2 separate regions of the Homo sapiens genome follow, and region 2 is linked to region 1. Evidence: fine-mapped expression QTL. A gene starts in region 1. The other region holds a variant in brackets. All regions are shown on one strand. Distances are from middle to middle.

Region 1 (5,389 bases):
AGGTCTGGAGTGGGGCCCTTAAAATGTATTTCTAACAACTTCCCAAGTGACACTGATGCTTCTGGTCTGAGGATCGTATTTAGAGAAGGAATATCATCAACCATGTCCTCGTCAAATTCATAGTTCTGGGCTGCATCATGGTACACGGGCCATGTTATTAGTTGTCTCCCACTTGTGTAAGATGTAGAGGAAATAACATAAGATGCCTGTGAGGATTTGATGTGATCATCTGAGTCTTGCTCTGACAATTATTAACATTCAGTTGCCCATTAAAATTCTTTGGAATCCTAGGACTTTGTCTGCTCGTCTCCTGTCAAATTCACTCCCCATCACCAATGGAGAGCAGCAGAGTTACTTAATCATTTCAGTCTTTTTCCATTCATTTCACACAGCTGTAATCAAAAACATAGGAGACTTAGAAGCCGATATGGAAATATGCTTCTGCTCCTCCGGGAGACATTTTTAGCTAGAAAGCTACTGATCTAACCTCAGATCCTCAAGACAATTACCCAGGAGCTGCTGTTGACTAACGAGTGAGCATTTGAAGCACGCACACAAGAGAAAGAAAGTGTTTTACACAAACACAAGAGCTTCATGGGCCTATATGATCAGGCCTAAGAAGACTAAAATATCTTTTCCTAATAAATATTCATTGAGCTAAGCACTTTGCTACATGATTTCTAATTAAATGTCATATTTTAATTCTCACAACTATCCTGTGAGATAACTTTCTCATCCCTGTTTTTTAGATTTAAAAAAACTGAGGCTTGAGAATTTTACATGACTTACCCAATGTCACATAGATGACATGAAATAGATCTGGCATTTGGCTCCCAGCCCAGTGTGTTCTCTCGATTATATAACTCCGTGTTATGTTAGTCTACACAGGAGCCAAGGTAAAGCCATACTTACCTGGGATTGCATTCCTGCTCTTAAACTTAATGGTTATATAACCTTGGGTAAGTTGTTTAAATTTTCTAAGGCTTAGTTTTTCAATATAAACGCAGAAAAGGCATGTCTAGGAAGAATTAGGGAAGGAAGTAATACCTGAGCCGAGTCTTGAAAGATAAACAGGAACTTTCAAGATAGACTGTTGGGTGGGGCAGGTTAAGAAAAGTGTACCAATGGGAACAACTGTGCAAAGACATGGAGTTGGAAGACAGCATGGAGCTTCAGGAAATAACAAATATTTCAGGGGTGCTGGCTCATGCATCTCTGCTCTACAAAATGGGAGCCCATGAAAACAAAAATCTCCATCTCCTAGCTCAGTACCTAATCCATTATCAGTACTTCACAGCACAGGATAGGTGTTTCAGAAATACTGGTTGAATGAAATAAATGAATAGGTGAATGAAAATATTTAATATTTGCTGCTAAACTAGAGGAAGATCATTGGTCATGTACTGGTTAGGCTGAGTGGCTTAAACAACAGAAATTTATTTTCTCAAAGTTCTGGAGGTGGGGAAGTCTAAGATGAAGGTGCCAGTAGATTTGGGTTTTAGTGAGGGCTCTCTTCCTGGCTTGCAAATGGTCACCTTCTAGGTGGAGAGAGGAAGCTCCGGCGTCTCTTGCTCTTCTTATAAGGGCAAGTAATCCCACCATGGAAGCTCCATGCTCATGCCCTCAGCTCAATCTAATTTACCCCTCAAAAGGCCTACCTCCTCATAGCATAACATTGAGTGTAGGGCTTCAACATATGGATTTTGAGGGGACACAAACATTCAGTCCATGATAGAGACTTAATCGCCTTGTCTAAATTCAAGATACTCTATCTCCTTAGTCGTATATGTAGGATTAGGCTTTTTTCTTTTTTTTTTTTTGAGACAGAGTCTTGCTCTGTCACCCAGGCTGGAGTGCAGTGGCTCGGTCTCGGCTCACTGCAAGCTCCGCCTCCGGGGTTCACGCCATTCTCCTGCCTCAGCCTCCGGAGTAGCTGGGACTACAGGCGCCCGCCACCACGCCCGGGGCATTTTTTGTATTTTCAGTAGAGACGGGGTTTCACCGTGTTAGCCAGGATGGTCTCCATCTCCTGACCTCGTGATCCGCCCACCTCAGCCTCCCAAAGTGCTGGGATTACAGGCGTGAGCCACGCGCGCCCGCCTAGGGTTAGGCTTTATATTCTGTACCTCACTCCAGATACCACATCTTGGGGATAAAAATAATATCACAATGACCACAACAGTATCATTCTCTGGCTCTGTCCTTCACTTCCCACTTCTAGAAGTTCCAACTCTCTCGAATTTCTCCCGCACTTAAGATACCCCCAGGGCACAGCTCACACTTGCTCACAGGCGAATTCCTTCTTACCTTCTGGCATCTGCCATTATCTCTTCTCCTGCTCTTTTGTGCTGTGTCTGATGAATTCTGTGGCTGCTGATACCAAAAGCATCAATAGTCCCTCAAAGATGGTCAAGATGAAATGGGAGAGTTTCCTAACCCCCTTCACAGGATGTGTGACAGGGGTGTGGCTCATCTGTTCAGCCTCTGTGCACTCAAACCCCTTACTGGAGGGGGAGCATGCAGACGGGCAGGTGCAGGAGGCGGGGCAAACACTTTTGGGCTCCAGCCCCATGGTAGTAGCATCCAGGGTGGGTGCCTGCAACTCCCAAAGCCCCAGTGGGCATGTTACAGTGCTCTTTTAGCTCTGCCGTCCACAGACAGCTCAAGTGTTATCCAGCCCAGTGCCCTCTTGGTACCTGGATGCTGGGTTCTTGTCCAGCATCCAGGAAGAATCAGGTCACACAGGCAAATTGAAGGATAGTGAATGCAAGAGATTTTATTGCCAGATGGAGGTGGCTCTCAGTGGAATGGCTGGGGAGTGGGGAAGCGAATGGAGTAGGAAGATGTTCCTCCCCTGGAGTTGGGTCGTCCTGCGGCCAATCTCCTCTCCGACTGTCCCCAGCCAAACTCCTCTCAACATTCAGATGCTGCTTCTCTTCCCTCTTTCTCTACCACGCTGCTCGGCCACACTGCTATTCTTCTGTTCCTCTGCTCTTCTATTCGTCTGCTTTTCTGCTCATGGAGCCTGCAATTTGGGGTTTATATTGGTACAAGATGGGGGGTGGACATGGTGGGCCAAAAGGCAACATTTGGGTGCAAAAACAAGAATGCCTATTCCCATTTAAAGTCATGGGTTTCCAGGCTTGAGGGTGGGGCCTTTGGGAGGGAACCTCCCTCTTCTACCCGGTATTTCCCTGCCTCCTGTCTGTATAAATGCCACCACTGGTGGCCAAGCCTGCCAAAATCGCAGCTGCTCCTGCCATTGCCAGGAAACTAAGACCATCAAGGGATGAGGTCTACTCCCACATCTTCTCAATTCAGGATGAGGTTTGCCCACTTTCCTGTTCAGGCAGTAGCCCCAGAGCTGCTGTCTGACACTCAGGCTGCAAAGCTGTGCTGACCTAAGCTCTAGCTGCCTTAGCAGATATCCAGGAAACAGCTTCTCTGGTTTTTACGGAATGTTTTTTGAAGTCTTTCTCCCAAGGACATGAGTCCACAAGGGCTGAGTATTAAACTTCTCCCTCTTTAACACTGATCTGTTGACTTTGGACCAAAGCTCCATACTAACATGCCTTTTCCACTACAGAAGACACTCGTTTTCCCTCCCAAATCCCCCAGATGGTGACTGAATGTCGGTGCAAACTTAACTTTGGCTCAAGTTGGGATTCCCGCTTTGAGGTGAAACTCCCACAGGCACAATACAAACTTCTTTTGTGCCTCTTTTCTACTCCATGATACTAGACAAATGGTTAATACTTAATAACAATAATAATACTTTTTAAATGGGAAACTGGTAGTATAAAGATATACCGTATTTATGCACTACAGGGGGAAAAAAGTGACTCCTGAAAATGCTAAGCATTTCAATTCTAATACAAGCAGCCTGGTTCTGTAAACCTAGCTCAGCAAATCGTGCCTGGACGTGGTCAGTCCTCTATAAATACATAATGCATGAGCAGCTGTCTGAAAGGCTGCTGAAGCCAAGCAAAGAAACCTCACCTGTGGAGGATGCAGGCCTGGGGACGTTGTAGTAGGTCATGATCTCAAAAGAATGACCATGAAGACTTTCAATACACAAAAAATTGAATCTTAAAGACAATGATGTTCTCTTCCCCATTGAGATCCTTTAGAAAAGTAACATGACATGGTATGAGAGATAATAGGAAGGAAGAGAAGAAAACACTAGATGACTATCTACTATGTTTCTTTTTACTATAGACTTGCTGATCTCTTGGCTAGTTCTTGAATGTTCCAGGAATGTTCCCTTCTCAGGACCGTTCCAGTTGCTGTTCTCTATAACTAGAATACACCTATCTGAGAAAATTCATATGGCTTGGTCCCTGGCTTCCTTCAGGCCTCTGCTACACAACTTGGTCTTTCCTGGCCACCCTTTATAACAAGAGCTCCCTCCCTACTCTCTGTCCCTGTACCAGATTTTATGTTTCTTCATAGCATTTAACTACTGCATGGCCTTATATCATTTGCTTATTATCTCTCACACTACAGTGTCAGGTCCACGAGGTGAGGAACTGTGCTTGCTGTATTCATTGCTCTGTACCTAATACCTAACACATAGTAGGTGCTCAATAAATAATTTTAAAATGAATGATTATCTAAATATAAATTGTAGTGCAAGATACTGTTAACCATAAATACAATCTAGTAAAATATTTTAAAAGCTGCTAAAAAAAAAAACTCTAGCCAATTAAATTTGAAAGAGTTTAATTGAGCAAAGAATGATTCGCGAATCAGGCAGCCTCCTGAGCCAGAGTAGACTCAGAGACTCCAGCACAGCCACGTGGTGAAAGAAGATTTATGGACAGAAAAGGGAAAGTGACGTACAGAAATGGAAGCGAGGCACAGAAACAGCTGGATTAGTCACAACTTGGCGTTTGTCTTATTTGAACACGGTTCAAACAGTTGGCCACGCTTGATTGGCCAAAACTTGGTGATTGGCACAAGAGCAGGTTACAGTCTGTTTACAATTCCATTTAGGTTTGTTAAATCAAGTTTAGCCTAAAGCTGCCTCCTTACATATTTTAAGTTCGGCCTAAAGGTTTCTCTGTACATCATGAACTATGACAAGTGGAGGTGTAAACAGGCCATAGTCTACACTTGTGCCAATTACTAAGTTTTGATGAATCAAATGTAGCCAACTGTTCGAACCATGTTCAAATAAAGCAAATGCTGAGCTTTTACCAATCCAGCTGTTTCTGTACCTCGCTTCCGTTTTCTGTACCCCACTTGTCCATAAATCTTCTTTCAGCACGTGGCTGTGCTGGAATCTCTGAGCCTACTCTGTCTTGGGAGGCTGCCTGATTCTTGAATCGTTCATTTTTCAATTAAACTCTTTCAAATGTAATTCGGCTGAAGTTTTTCTTCTATCAGG
Region 2 (5,389 bases), 100 kb before region 1:
GGTGTCCTTAATTAGTAGGTTATTATTTTCTCTGAACGTCTATCACTGAAAATTCATTTATACCAGGAATTAATTTTCTTCTAATAACTCCCAAGATATATCATTATTTATGTGCAAATATACCAGAATCCAAAATTCAAAACACTTCTGGTCCGAAGGTTTTGGATAAGGAGGGATACTCAATCTTTATTAGGAAAAATGACATTTTTGATACAAATAAAATTAGAGAAAGTTAGAATTGTTTTAACTGATTGGAATAAACGTGTAATAATGGTTGTTTTTGAAATTTTGTCTCTAGATATTTACATTGTTGCAAATGAAGAAGGACAACAATTTGCATTAAAGCTTCACAGACTAGGAAGAACCTCGTTTCGAAATTTGAAAAACAAACGCGATTATCATAAACATAGGCACAATGTGTCATGGCTATATTTATCTCGTCTCTCTGCCATGAAGGAATTTGCCTATATGAAGGTATTTATTTTATTTTGTAGTCATGCATTTTTTAGCCAAATAATACATGTGTCTCAAAGGCCTTAATGACAAGTGTGATTCTGTTGTCCCCACATCTCTCTAACCTTAGACTCAATTCCTACAGACAGACTCAATCTTAAATAACTCTGTTGATTATTTGGGCTCTTTTAAGTGATTTCCTTCTACGTTAAGGTATTTTAAATTGTTACTAATGCATAAGGGCAACACATTCTGTAATGCTGACAAGATGAAAGAGCCAAAAGTAATTAATGATGCTGTTACCTCACAAATATGTATGTGTGGATGTATATATATCTATTCAATATATGTAACTATACATATGTCTGTTTCTAATTGAAAACACCAGGTAATTATCATCTGTAGAAACCTTAGTGTCTCAGATAAGTTGGCTAGTTTTTTGTTTCACATAAAGGAACAAACATTTATAGATTTATATGTATATTAAAAATGGTAAAAATTGGCTGGGTGCAGTGGTTCATGCCTATAATACCAGCACTTTGGGAAGCCGAGGTGGGCGGATTACTTGAGGTAAGGAGCCCAGCCTGACCAACAAGGTGAAACCCCATCCCTACTAAAAATACAAGAATTAGCCGGGGATGGTGGTGGCCACCTGTAATCCCAGCTACTTGGGAGACTGAAGCAGGAAAATCACTTGAACCCAGGAAGCAGAGGTTGCAGTGAGTGAAGATTGTGCCACTGCACTCAAGCCTGGGCAACAGAGCAAGACTCTGTCTCAAAAAACAAAAATGGTAAAAATCTTTAGTTTTTAAGAGGTAAGGATGAAGAGAAGTGGGTTAAAGGATACAAACATACAATTAGAAGGAATACATTCAATGTTTGATAGCAGAGTAGGGTGACTATAGTAAACAAAATGTATTGTACTCAGGAGATGAACACACTAAATACCCTGACTTGATGACTTCTCATATATACTTAACAAAATGTTACATGTACCTCATACATTTATACAAATAGAAAAAAATGCTTAACCTGGCAGATGAAATGTCAAAATCTCAAAGACGGTTTTCTCAGGGTTAGGCCTATTCATTGCACTTCAGGTGTGCTGACCCCTGCAGTTTCCCCAAATATTGGAACTTGACTGCATATTTTGTGGCACTGGCGGACTACATTTATACTGTCCCCTGACATTAAAAAAAAAAATCCTTTATTTTTAACTTTGCCTTCAAAATTAAGTTCAGCATAGATTGTTAAATATAATAATATCCAAATTAAATATATCCAACAATAACTAAGTTAAACAAAAGATAATATTGTGTTTTTATAATCCTGCCAGTAGGATTTGTCATAGTTTATCTTCATTTTTCAAAACAATGTGAATTAAAGATTGCTACAGTGTGTGAACACCTGTTTCTTGAGGATTCAGCTTGTTCTTTGAGTGGGTTATATACTTAAATTTTCACTAATCATGGGAGATTTCTTAAGGCAGCATAAATTAGTAATACTGATACCATACATGTCAATGTACTTCTTATACTAATAGTTTGTATCTTGTAATATTCAGTCAGTAAATGAGCAGCTTGGTAGGGATCATTTACACATTTTCCCAAAAGGGTAGTAGGTGTTTTTCAGGATATTTATATTGAAGGTATAGGAATGGAATCTGGTTGCACATAAATGCACTCCTTAATGTATTGATTATTCATAAGAGAGGAACAAGAAGATAAAGATTGGGCTATAGCATGAGGTCTAGGCGATAGCACAAGTTCTAGACAAATATTCACAATCTTTAAGTTTATCACGTGCTATTGATCTGTCTAGGTATGCTCAAAATGGTCTACACTGAAAAAAAGTATTTAAAAACAAAGCAAAGAAAAATATCTGGGAAGTGGGAAGTGGTTTGGTTCTTGTTCACAGAAGGTAAGCAATAGACAACCTTTTGAAATTAATTGCTGGGGTAGTGTAGGGTGAAGGAGTGGATGCCAAAGAAATAACCAGTACGATCTGTGTCTTAAAGTTGAGAAGATAACACATGAAACAGAACCTTTTATTTATTTATTTATTTATTTATTTATTTTCAAGACAAGGTCTCACTCTGTCACCCAGGCTGGAGTGCAGTGGCACGATCACGGCTCACTGCAGCCCCTACCTCCTGGGCTCAAGCCATCCTCCCACCTCAGCCTCCCAAGTATCTAGGATCACAGGCATGTGCTACCATGCCTGCTTTGTAGAGACAGGACCTTGCTGTGTTGCCCAGGCTGCTCTCAAAC[C/T]CCTGGCCTCAAGAGATTCACCCACCTCGGCCTCCCAAAGTACCGGGGTTATAAGCGTGAGCCACCACTGCAAGTCTAAGAACAATTTTTTTTTTAATTATATACTGAATTTAGAGAAACTTCAGTAAGTGATAGAATAGTTGATGGAGGAGGTTTCAGGTAGTGAGTGGAGCTGAGTGGAGCCATGAAGCTTGGATATTATTTGACCCTAAGACAGTGCATTTTGGCAGAGAAGTGGTATGGGCAATGACATGAATCTATGTGAGTCCTATGTGTTTAGGTGACACTGAGGTGACTGTCCTGACTGCGTTTCTTGGTGTGTATTGGAGAGAATATTGGGAGAACTAGGACTGTACAGGTGGATTAAAGAGTTTTGAAAACCAGGAAAAGTTTATATTTACAAACTGAAAAGAAAATTTACAGCCAATGTAAAAAAAAACTTTTTTTGAGGTGTAGTCTTGCTCTATCACCCAGGCTAGAATGCAGTGGCACGATATCAACTCACTGCAACCTCTGCCTCCCGGGTTCACGCGATTCTCCTGCCTCAGCCTCCCAGGTAGCTGGGACTACAGGCATGTGCCACCACGCCTGGCTAATTTTTTTGTATTTTTAGTAGAGATGGGGTTTCACCATGCTGGCAGGCTGGTGTCGAACTCCTGACCTCAACTGATCCACCCGCCTCGGCCTCCCAAATTGCTGGGGTTACAGACGTGAGACTCCATGCCCATCCCAATGTATATATTTTTAAATGGAATATTAACATCAGCAGGTTAGTCTGGTATTGGTACATAGAATAGGTTAGGTATGATGGCAAGAGCTAGAACACTTGTGGAGTAATGAGGTATATGCCTCCTTACAAGTATATGTTGGTGCAAAAGTAATTGCAGTTTTTGCCATTCCTAATACTAGCATTCTAAATGTCAAAGGGCATAAATCTAAGGTATTTTAAAGAAAGTAATAACAGGGCTTTGTAAACAGTAAGATTGAAGACAGTAAGCTTAGGGGAAAAGATGTATGGAGAGTCTTAACACTTGAATCAGACTACAACAGTGTATATTTTTCACATAATAGATTTATATTGCATATTGTGGCCTGGAGAAAAAGTTCAGTGCCCTATAAACCAAAATGTCTGATCTCTTAGAATGCCTCATTTCCTAATATGTCCGAAGATGAGTATTTCCTAAATTTGTTTCCAATTTAAATATTTTGAGCACATTTCAACAAATGTCAGAGACTTACAAAATAGGAAAGGATATACCCTAAGAGACTGTAAGCTTCTTGGGGGCTTTTTGACACTAATTTTAGAGTGTTTAGAAACTTTTTAACATTCATTTTTGTAACCCCAGCACAGTGCATAACATTTTGTAAATGTTCATTTTTTGTGGAAAAGTGAATTCAAACTTTTGTTTAAAATTTGCTTTTTATGTGTGGCTAATTCTACGCAGTGAATAAATAAGCTATGCATAAATAACCATGTGTTAACTACAATTTTATAAAGGTTTGTGTGTTTTTTTTCTGGTTGTAGAAAGGTATATTTACTTTTATTGTTCTTTAAAGAGTAATGACCTGTTCATTAGCTTACACCTGTTTTGCAACATTTTAGGCATTGTATGAGAGGAAATTTCCAGTTCCAAAGCCAATTGATTACAATCGTCATGCAGTGGTCATGGAACTCATAAATGGTTATCCACTGTAAGTATTCATTATTCTTAAAGCCATGAATCCTGATAAATGAATTTAAGTTTCAGGGTTTTTAATAAAATTTTTTTTAGTTAATGAAATATTGCCTCTGGGAGGTTAAAATTTATTTAAAGGAATAGACTCAAAGACAAATTAAAAACCCAGTTTCATTCTGACAATATGAACTTTGTAATCTCTGTGATTCATTCATTCATTCAATATTAAGAGACTGTTAGGTGCCAGGAACTTTTAATCTCAGCAGTGAACAAAACAAAGTCCCTGCCCTCATGGAATTTACATTCTGATGGAAGGAGATGTGCAATAAATAACTAAAGGAAATGTATATCAATTGTTAGTAAGTACTATGGATAAAAAAAAGCAGAGTAAGGGAGATAGGAAGTACTAACGGGACAGGAGACTACTGTTTTATGTAGGGTGGTCAAGAAAAGTCTCACTAATAAGGTGAAACCTCATCAAATTTTGATTCAGATTAGCAGCTATTGGAGTGGGAGTATTTTGAGCAGAGAAGAGATGTGATCTCATCAATCAGTGATCTCAGTGTTTTCAGAGGGTCACTCTGCTTGCTGAATTAATAGACTCTGGGGAGACAAAGAATTAGGAAGACAAGTTAAGAGGCTATTACAATAATCTAGGCAAGAAATGGTTGTAATTCTGATTACAGTGATAGTTGTGAAGGTGATGAAAAGTGGTCAGATTCTGAATGTGTTCTGCAGGTTGAACCAACATGATTTGAGATTGGATATGGATGTGAAGGAAGGGATGAGTCAATGGTGACACCAAGGTTTTTCCCCTGAGTAGCAAATTAACTGGAAGGAGAAATCTACCATGTATAGAAACAGGAAAGCTACAGGAACAGCATTTTGGAGTTGGAGGGTGGGACAGAATCAGAGATTCCATTTTGGACATGCTAAGTTTGAGATGCCTGGGAGTTAGAGAAGTCTACATTAAAATCAGTGTATATGTGG

What was found. PIP is the estimated chance that this variant, and not a neighbour inherited with it, causes the effect. A credible set is the group of variants that fine-mapping cannot tell apart.
Region 2: its variant is the best candidate, but not a certain one, in a credible set for the expression of LIX1-AS1 in whole blood (INTERVAL, PIP 0.87).

Annotation. Positions count from the first base shown.
Region 1 is chr5:97,070,757-97,076,145 of GRCh38, reverse strand. It overlaps LIX1-AS1 (LIX1 and RIOK2 antisense RNA 1), which reads right to left and starts at 2,421. Exons shown (of 8, transcript NR_187470.1): 1 at 2,308-2,421.
Region 2 is chr5:97,172,201-97,177,589 of GRCh38, reverse strand. It overlaps RIOK2 (RIO kinase 2), which reads left to right. Exons shown (of 10, transcript NM_018343.3): 4 at 299-474; 5 at 4,327-4,415. It also overlaps the pseudogene RNU1-73P. Among named protein-coding and RNA genes, the nearest start is that of RIOK2, 8.4 kb to the left of the region's middle. The variant C/T (reference allele first, on the strand shown) is at 2,724.